Linked DNA regions of Homo sapiens: region 1 is linked to region 2. Evidence: fine-mapped expression QTL. A gene starts in region 2. The other region holds a variant in brackets. All regions are shown on one strand. Distances are from middle to middle. Region 1 holds the start of CLEC7A (C-type lectin domain containing 7A). Region 2 holds the start of CLEC1A (C-type lectin domain family 1 member A).

Evidence for each region.
Region 1: its variant is fine-mapped to the expression of CLEC1A in whole blood (TOPMed, PIP 0.91).

Annotation. Positions count from the first base shown.
Region 1 is chr12:10,124,867-10,130,257 of GRCh38, forward strand. It overlaps CLEC7A (C-type lectin domain containing 7A), which reads right to left and starts at 5,333. Exons shown (of 6, transcript NM_197947.3): 1 at 5,114-5,333; 2 at 2,881-2,979; 3 at 1,705-1,842; 4 at 431-582. The coding sequence starts at 5,216. All of the region lies in intron 1 of LOC105369655 (a long non-coding RNA gene), which reads left to right. The variant C/T (reference allele first, on the strand shown) is at 2,237.
Region 2 is chr12:10,096,514-10,101,904 of GRCh38, forward strand. CLEC1A (C-type lectin domain family 1 member A) reads right to left here and starts at 2,472. Exons shown (of 6, transcript NM_016511.4): 1 at 2,295-2,472. The coding sequence starts at 2,409.

The DNA of each region.
Region 1 (5,391 bases), 28 kb after region 2:
GCTTAAGGCATGCTATGATTATAATTATAGAGATATTAAAAATGAATTTTGGCCAAGTATGGTGGCTTACACCTGTAATCCCAACACTGGGAGATCGAGGTAGGCAGATCGCTTGTGCCCAGGATTTTGAGACCAGCCCAGATGATATGGAGAAACCTCGTCTCTATGAAAAATACAAAAAAACATTAGACGAGTGTGGTGGTGCACCCTGTAGTCCTACCTACTCAGGAAGCTGAGGTGGGAGGATCACTTGAGCCTGGGATGTCGCGGCTTCACTGCACTCTAGCTTGGGCAACAGAGTGAGACTCTGCCTCAAAAAAAAAAAAAAAAAAAGACTTCATTTTAGGAAAAATTGTCATTACCTGGAATCTCCCTCTATCTTCCTTCAGGATACACACCACAGATAATCATAACAGAAGTCTACACTTACCAATTCATTTGAGCTGTCTATCTTTAGGAGATTAGAGCCCAGTTGCCAGCATTGTCTTTTACTTCCATCCCAGGAATTTAGTGACATGCTGAATAGATAACAGCTCTTCTCATATATAATCCAATTAGGAGGACAAGGGCTGGAAAGAACCCCTGGAAATAAAAGATTAGTACCATGAGGTTCATAGCATACCAATTCACTCTTTTAGTGTGAACACCATTCATCTTAAGGACACTTATGAAATAACCAATTAGTTGCCATTTTTATATTTCATTGTCAATTCGAACTACAGGGATATGATTTTACAGATGAGAATACATTAAAATCTTCCTATTCATTTAAAATTTAAAAACAAACTAGCTATAAATAGTATTTTAGGCAGCCAACCATCCTTTTTTTCTTCACTTGTCTTCTATTCCTTCTAATTCAGCTCAAAACTACCTTTCTCCTTAATAACTCCTTAAAATAAGTCCACTCACAATCAGTCATTGAGGTACACAGCAATTTCATATTGCTACTTATTTTATGATGTAAGATCTACTTCATAATGTGACTTTCCAAGTGAGAAAAGTATAGGCCAATTATTCATATTATACACTATCTCTGTTATATATTATTAGCTACTTAATAAAAATAGTGAGAAGGTATGGGTCCAGAGATGAAAAATTGAACTGAAAACATTAAGTCATAGTCAATTATGATGCAATTAGAAGTAAAAGTCAAGTGTGTATAGAATTGTAATTAAGTAAATGAAATTGTATGATTAAACAAATTTGATGAGTTTTCAGGGACATGTGTATTAGGTCTACCTCTTTTGTATATTTTTAATATAGCTTCCTTATTCTTGGCAACATTTTCCCTTCTTTCCTTTCTCCCTGTCATTCTTCCTTTCTAATGTCATATTTCCTATTCTAACTGTATCGCATTTAAAATGTCAATTCTGTAAGGGGAGAGAACACTTTTCTTTTATTTGTATCAAATTATATGATCTCCTGTAGATCTAAGCACATAGCCAGTGATAAATCAGTTACTGATTTTAAAAATTAATAAAGTCCAATTTAGAACTGTCCAGCCAACTGCATAGGGTACTTATAATTTCACCTTATTGTATATATGACAGGGATACATTACACTAAGGTAATACTAATATGTGTATTTGCCTTAAATTTACAATCATTGAATCTAAGTGTTTTTCTTTACACCCCTGCCCCAGGCTTCAGCACCAAGAATTAACCCTCTTGAGTCAAGATTCCGTCCTTTAACTATGCCCTTGCCTGTGGTTTTGACAGCTTTGGTAGGAGTCACACTGTCTTCTAAAGATGATTGTGTGGGTTGACTGTGGTTCTCTTTATTTCTTGATAGAAAGTAGCCATTCTCCAATGTGTTGCTTCCTGAATTGGATCTCCAAATAGCTTCACATACCAACAATAATAATAGTGACAGAAAAAATGTCATTCTGCTGTGTTTGAAAATTAAAATCCCAAAACCCAAATGTTATTGGAATAAAAGAATACATTATTGATTAATGATAAATAGATGATATATTGCTGTGGAGAGATAAAGACGATTGATAGAATAGATGAAAAGAAATACATAACTTTTATAAAGGAGGTATAGTAAAAAAAAAAAAAGAAAAGAAAAAAGAAGGTGGAGAAGAAGAAATAGAATGAGGGAGGCAGCAAGAGGCAAATGTCATAGAGTCAATTGGACCCATGACAGATTTGAAATAGCAACATCTTTCACCTTTCTTCTGTTATTTAAAAATGAGAGATCCTTGAGAAACTGCCCAGTACCTATAACATAGAA[C/T]GCACTCAATAAACATTTGACTAATTAAGGAATGTCATGAAGACTCTCTGAAGGTGACTGACAACAGATTGCATGTGATATAAAATGTAAAAAAAATATTAATCCATTACAAAATATCGACTTAAGACCAAGTGCCTCAGGAAATTTCTGGTGTATTCAAAGGTGTTTATATTAAAGATCGGAAATAATTTCCTTAAATAATGTGAATCATAAAAATAGCTTAATGTCCATTTAGTGAATTTATTTCATTAGGAAGACAGCACCATATTGTACTTTCTTCTTCAGCTCCGCTTGTTTTCTTCATTAATTTATCCTTTGAATTCCACAGCTTTGAAACCAGCTATGTAAGGGAGGTAGGAGAGCAATGTAGTTAAGAGTATGAGTTTTTTAGACAGATCACCCAAATTTCTAATCATGGTCCCACCACTAACTAGCTTATAACCCTGGAAAGGTAAAATAACCTCTCAGTCTCTCACACCCTTTATAAGTGAAATGGGCATTAACAGCACCAACCCAATACAGATAAAACCAGATTATATACAAATTAAAGTAGATTATGCATGTCAAGCCCTTAAAAGAGTGCCTGGCACATAATAATTGCTTACTAAATTGTCTGTTGTTAATCTCCTCCACCAAATACTCACCCATGGTACCCAGGACCACAGCTATCACCAGTATTACCAAGCATAGGATTCCCAAAATTACAGCAATGAGGCGCCAAGGAGGAGATGCAGCACACGATCCTGAGGAGCCAGAGGGGGCAGAAATGGAATAAAGAAAGAGAATGACGGATGGTGGGGCAGTTTAATTCTACAGTTCATCAAAAATCTGGCCTTGCACGGTGGCTCACACCTGTAATCCCAGAAGGGAGACTGAGGTAGGAGGATTGCTTGAGGCCAGAAGCTCAAGACCAGCCTGGGCAACACAGGGAGACCCTGTCCCTACCAAAAAAAAAAAAGAAAAACAAAGAAAGAAAAAAAATTTAATTAGCTGGGCATTGTGGTGAGCTCCCGTAGTCCCAGCTACTCTGGAGGCTGTGGCAGGAGGATCACTTGAGCCTAGGAATTCCAGAGCAGCATAGGCAAAAAAGTGATACCCTGTTAAAACACACACACACACACACACACACACACACACACACACACCACCAACAACAACAACAAAAAATACTGGCAAATTTTTAAGTGAATTATTAATCACTGCCTAGGTTACCTGGTCACCTAGGATTTGCTGTGCTTCTCCACCAGTAAGGATACCTTCTTCTTCAATTGCTGGAATTGTAATTTCGGCACATTGGCTTGATAACTGTATGCTCCTAATTTCAGTTCCACATTGACATCTACAGGTCTTGACATTAGTAGGATCCCTGAAATCCCACTGATTCTTAGAGGAAATAGCTTAATGTTGGGGAGATAGCACTGATTACTAAGGGTAATTTTCCCTTTTCATATGTTTGTTGCATGACCCTGGGCAAATTACTCCCTTTGTTGTTTTTTATTCCTCTTTGTGAAACTGGGGTAATAATATCTCAAAGGATTATTGCGGGAATTAAACGAGCTAACACATATAAAAGCACCTTGTTTAGAGACTGCTAGCACATGATAGGTGTGTTGTTGCAGGATACCGTTTGCCTACACATATGCATAAACATGCGCATGTCTCCCTACCTCTTGCCTCATCCACTTTTTCCACGCTTCCTCAATAGGTTGCCCAAGAAAAGAATTACATCAGTGCTGAGAGGAAAATATTTGTGCAGTGTGAATAACCAGAAAGCAGAAGAAAGCAAACTCTGGTGTCAAAACCGACAAATGATCTCTCTCTCTCAAAGATAATAGGGAACTAATTTTGTATGAACATTGCCATAACCAGAATGTATTTCTGCTTTCCACTGTGACTAAGCTGTCAGGACATTTCATAGAATTGTCACATAGGAGAATCGTAGAGTAGGCTAAATCACCCATTCTATGAATACAGAGATCCTCCAATGCCCTTCTTTCTATTTCATTTCATTTACACTTTGTTTAAGACTCATGTCCTGCTGGTGGGATGTTTTTATCTACCATATGTTCATATATTTTCCATCACTGGTATACCAATAATTGTTTTTTGTTTAAAAACAATTTAAATTAATCTCTTACCACAAAAAAAAAATGTTGTTCATATATATACTTCTTTAAGTTTCCTGGCCTCCATTCGATAATCTAGCCTTTCTATCAAACAAGCAACAAGTCACTCATACAGAAATCCTTTATCTTTGTGTATTATCCCACTTATTACCAATTCCTCACTGATGAAATGTCTATATCTATAGAAAAGAGAAATTCTATTTTCTGCCATCAGACATAATTAATTTAAACACTAATAATTGGTCACTGAATAATTTTCATGAAAAAAGGTTTAGGGTGCATTCAATTTATCTTCAGTGACATCTGAAGCCTTTAAAAGTATATCCATAAAAATATACACATCACGAGGCTCTCAAATTTTCTCCCCTTATATCTTTTTGTTTTGTTTTTATTTTTATTTTTTTTCAGAGATGGAGTCTTGCTCTGCCACCCAGGCTGGAGTGCATTGGCATGATCTTGGCTCACTGCAACCTCCACCTCCCAGGTTCAAGTGATTCTCCTGCCTCAGCCTCCCAAGTACCTGGAACTACAGGCGTGCACCACCATGCCCGGCTAATTTTTGTATTTTTAGTAGAGACAGAGTTTCACCACGTTAGCCAAGCTGGCCTCGAACTCCTGACCTCAGTCAATCCACCCGCCTCGGCCTCCCAAAGTGCTGGGATTACAGGTGTGAGCCACCATGCCTAGCCTCCCCTTATATCTTTTCAAACGGGAGAGCTAAAGGCACACATTAGAAAAAACATATATATACCTTTCTCTGAAACAACAGCTATCCTGGTATTGCTTTGAGAGTCGAAGTGTAATTGAGTATATCCATCTTCATCCAAATTTTCTAAATCAGGATGATATTCCATTGTTCTTGAGAGCCCCTGAATAGATATAGCATTTGGGAGCTCTTTTCTTTCTGCTCCTGAGATGACTGTCTGTGGACAAAAGAGAATCTCTGAGTCAAATCATGTGGGCTAGGTACTTACCGGAGTTTAACAAATTAAGCTTAAGTAGTTCAACCAGATATTCAAGAGCAGGAAA
Region 2 (5,391 bases):
CAGCCAGGAAGGTCTTTCCAAAATGCAAAATTTTGTTTCTCCCTATCTAAATCCTGCATTGACTTCATTTTAACTATTGAATAGAATTAAACTAGATCAGCATGCCCTAAAATCCCTCCTTAACTTGCCAGACTTACCCCTTTGCTAAGTTTCCCTCCTCCAACTCTACACCTACGCCATACATATTGCTTATAGTTCTCTAAAAATACAAAGCTACTGAAAACCTTCATGACTTTCCCTTCATACGTCTCTCTGTCTATAGTGTCCCCAGCCTCTCAAACACCCTCACTCCCGATTCCTTATTATGTGGAAGATGTTAAAATTAACTCAACTCCACAGTTGCTCCTTCTGTTAAGCCTTTCCTGAACTCCTCTACTTAATTAGGTAAAAATTAAGCCGAGAGCTTGGTTAAGCTCTCGGCTGTACTGTACATGCTTCTGCCATAACACCTTATTATACTTACTCCTTAGTTGAGAATTGTATTAGACTTTCAATTTCCTTATGAACAGGGACCATATCACATTGGACATTATATCCTCAGTACTAGGATAACATGACCCCAAACATAAGTTTGTGAAAAATGTATGAGGTTGTTGTTTTTCATTTTCACTATCTTAATTGTTTGGCATTTTTACTATCTTAATTGTTTGGCATTTTTAAACACAAACATAGTTGTTACGTCAATTGTTATTGACAAAAGTCTAGAAATTAAATGAATGTGTGTGTGATTTATTTTTATTAATTCTAAAAAATAAAAGTTGCCAGCTCTTAATGGTATCACATCATTATGTTGAATCTGAATCCTCCACATTGCCGAAAATTTCTGAGTGATTTCTGCTGTTATTTTTATCAGCGAAGGTATATCAGATATGTTTATCTAAGAAATAATTATACTTCTATGATGGTATTCCCCTAAATGTTTGTATTACCATAAAAAGATGAAAACAAGATCTCATATATGTTGCCTAAGATAACTATTTCCAGATGATTTCTTCCAAGACAATTCTTTGTAATCTCCACTTCTACTGTTTCAATATCCATTTCTTACAAAGAAGCTCCCAGATGTTGCAGCTAGTGTTTTATCTTGCTCCACCTCCCTCTCCACCCTTCAACCTCAGCAGAACTTATTTGTACATGCTGTTCTTAATTATGCTGATCTCTAGTCCTTGACAGAGTTCCTGGCTCCAGTCAAAGGTGGAAAATGAAGTTATATACAAGCTACTCAAAACCACAGCCGTAAAAATGGACTCTTCGTAAGTTTTTTTGGAGGAAAACGCTTTGTATCCTATTACACATATCCTGTGGCTACAAAAGCTGACATCCCTACTTTTGTCACTTAGCTTCATTTCAAAGAGGTTGGAAATCCCCAATGTCCCTTAACAGCTTACTGGGTAGTTTAGTTAAAAAAAAAAAAAGCCATATTAGTAGGTTTCAGGTGGAGGGTCATTTAATAAATAGAAATAAATAGAAAGTGAATGGAGGGTTTAGTAGGAGAAAGGAAGGAAAACTAAAAGTTATTTGATAAAGAAATAAGGAACAGGATAGTTTTTTTTTTTTAAAGGTATATCCAGATTTACAAAGGTGAAGAAAACAATGATATAATCAGAAGGGAAAGGGCATATTAAAACACAGGCACTGAATGAATGTTAAAATGTGGGATTCCTTTCAACATTCCATTTCTTAAGAACCTAAAGTGTTCCTTTCAGCAATTTTGTGTCAGTCTATATCAGATCAGACAGACATTCAAATATTTTACATAATTTATCATTCTCAGTACTCACAACCACCTTGTAAAGGAAGTTTTATTACTTCTATTTAATATTAAGTCAAGTTAATATGAATTAATATACTTAAAGTATTTAAAACACTGCCAGCACATAATGAGCCCTTTATACATGTTTGTGGCCGTTAATATTTTATAAATAAAGAATATGATGCTACCAGGATACTTAAACAACTCATCCAAAGTTACACAGAAGGAAAGTGGCATACCTGGTTTAGGACCTAGAACCTAGTCCTGTGTATATTACCATGTGAGTCCTTTTCACTAGAACTGAAGTCATATTTTAGCTTTAGATTGGCTGAGTGGCCCAGGAAATAAAATCCTTCTCTAAGTGTGGGAATTATGGAACTGAATATAACTGAAAAAAAAAAATCACTACTATGTCACAGGGCGAGTAATTGGAAATAAAATTATAAGATGCAAGCTAAATATCTCCATTTCTAGGAGGGATAGATCATCTCACACATTTCACAAGGACTGTGGTCTATTTGGACTCCAGGAGACAGGGTACCTGTGCGCCGGGGCTCTGGATGCCGAGTTGTGGCAGAGCCTTGAGAATGCAGGCTCATGGTGGTGTCCCCATCATCATCCAGCATGTCCCTCGTGCTGCTGTACTTGGCCTGCATCTGGATTCCTACAGCGGTGAGAGTGAAATGTGGTCGGATTGCCCTGGGCCGCCGGGCTACTGTGAGCTAGTTCAGGAAGCAAGGCACTAAAAGGCATTCCTAATGTTCTTTCCCAGCGAGGGGCAGGGAAAGTCTCTGACTGCAATTCCTGACTGGACAGGCCCAGCCCCTCTCCTGTGAGCTTGTACTCTGAATGCCAAATCAGTCAGGCTGAGGGGAAATAGCATGTGTTTTCTGTTTAGGCCGTCTCAGTCTAAACAGTTGTCAAAAAGTTGGCCTTTCTCAGGTCTTTTTTGTTTACCTGTTTGCATTTCTCATGTAACTTCACTGTAAAGAAGGCAAGAACTTACAATAGCACGGTGTAGCACTGTGGTTCCTTCAGAGTCTGCAGAATAATAATAACTTGGAAGGACACACATCCCTGTTTCTTACCCATCCTTTAGGGAGTCACTTAGTTTAACCTCTCTGTGTCTTTGTGAAAAGAGAAGAGATTATAGGACCTAGCCCCTTCCTTTCTCCAAGAACAGAGTAGTGGTCTTTCTTATAGTATCTGAACTTGATTCAACATTTTATAGCACATTTGGTACATTATGATCACGAGGAATTATACAATTTACTGGAAGTAAAAACTTTTAAAACTATTACTAACCACCATGTGGTTTGGGGAAGCCAGTTCATTTGTGCCTAAATCTCCTAAACTGAGAAGAAAATGTTTTAGGTAATGTGAAAAAATTCTTCCTGAATCAGTACATTAGAATTATATTCCCATCTTAGTCTGTTTGTGCTGACCTACAACAGGATACCTGAGACCAGATAAATTATAAGCAATAGAAATGTATTTCTCAGCATTCCAGAAGGTGGGAAATCTAAGATCAAGGCACTGGCAGGTTTGGATGTCAGGTGAGAGCTGCACTCTCTGTAGAGGAGGAAGGGTATTCTCACGTGGCAGAAAGCAGAAGGTCAAGCCAGCCAAATGCTACATGTAGCGTCTTTTATAAAGGCCTTAATACCATCCTCAAGAGAGAAGACTTCAAGGACTAATCATCTCTTAAAGGCCCCACCTCTCTCAATACTACCACACTGGCAACACCTGAATTCTGCAGGAAACACATTCAAACCATAACAAGACAGGTATCAGTAACAACCTTGTGCCTTTGGGAGGACAATTAACAATTTGCATCTACATTTCCTAAACTGAAAGACAAGAAGATTGTTTTAGATAATGTCTAAAAGTTCTTCCTGAATCTGTACAATAGACTTATATTACTCTACCAAAACTTTTCCAGATGTTAGGTGATAGGTGGGCAAAATCAAGCATGCTAAATATAAAGGAGTGTCAGAATGCTCCAGTTGGGGTAGCCAGACCATATAAAAGATCTATGAGGAAGTGCACATTGTGGATTCACATGTGTTTCAAGCTGTTTGTTGTTCATCAAATTATTCTAAATTTTTTAAAAATTGGAATTTTTTTTTTTTTAGATGGCAGATTGGAGGCAGTGTTAGCATGACTCTACCACTTGGAAGGACAAAATAGTGAGTAAAAAATTCTCACTGTGGGCCAGCCATGGTGGTCACGCCTTTAATCCCAGCACTTTGGGAGGCTGAGGTGGGTGGATCACCTGAGGTCAGGAGTTCGAGACCAGCCTGACCAACATGGCAAAACCCCGTTTCTACTGAAAATATGAAAATTAGCCGGGCGTGGTGGCGGGTGCCTATAATACCAGCTACTGGGGAGGCTGAGGTAGGAGAATCACTTGAATCCGGGAGGCGGAGGTTGCAGTGAGCCAAGATCACACCACTGCACTCCAGCCTGGGCAACAGAGCGAGACTCCATCTGAAAAAAAAAAAAAAAAAAAAAAACCTTCTCACTGTGAACTCTTTTCCCAAGAAGCAACACAGGAACTGAACAGGAAAACTGAAAGAATCCACAGACTCTTTGAAAGAAGCAGCAGGTTATACCTACACCATGAGCTAGGTGAAAAACTGTAAGCTCCCAGGGTGTGTGAGGTGAAGAGACTGGCTCCAGGATACATACCCCCACAGGGGAACCTGAAAGTCCATGCCATGGGGGAAGGCCTTAACCCGTCCCAGCACTGGAACCAATTAAAAGAGCAGTGATGAATATAAAAGTAAGAGCAGCAGCAGGAAGAGGCTTGTGTGCATTCCCAGTCTCCAGCATGAGCCAAGGGAAACTATTCCTTATGCCTCACAGACAACCTCACGGAACTCAGCCAACTAGCTCAGCCAGGGGTTGCACATTGTAAAAACTCCCAACTGAAATTCACAATATAACCTCAAGTGAAATGAACTCCCTTGGCCAGAACCAGAAAGGTGAGTGGGAAATGTGTTGCAGCCGTGAGTGCAGGATCTGGGTGCCAGCTGTGTGGGTGGACAGAGAGGGGCATGGCCTGAACGCCAGCAGTTGCTATCACCACGGGAAAAGTTTATGGCCTCAGGCAGTTGTGAGCTCTGAGTGCAGACTGCCTGGAACTTAGCTCACTGCTGCTAGCAGAGTACTGCAGGAGCCAGATCTGCCTTGCCAACTGTGTGACATCTGGGTTAGGCTTACTGCTGCCTACTACTCCCCACTCCCTGTGCAACCACATCTCCAAAAGGGGCCGCTGCTTGCCATGCACATGGTGACTCAGAGTGCAGACCCACCTAACACAGCCCTCATCTGGCTTTGCCCCTCCACCCACCGTGGTAGCTTAATACAAAGGACAGAAACCCTGGGGAGATTTATAGCCCCATCCATCACCTGAGAAGCCAGACTACCTACCCTGGGCAACATAAGGCAAGCACAAATCCCACTGCTACTACCACACCTGATACTCTTTTGCAAATGCCACCCAGTAGCTGGAAGCCTACCAACACAGTCCATTGCAGCATCTGTAGGTGGAATAACACTGCACTCAAGAAGGACAAAACTACTGTGTGACCTCAGCTATTACCACTTCCTGCACTACCCTGTCTAACCAGGAG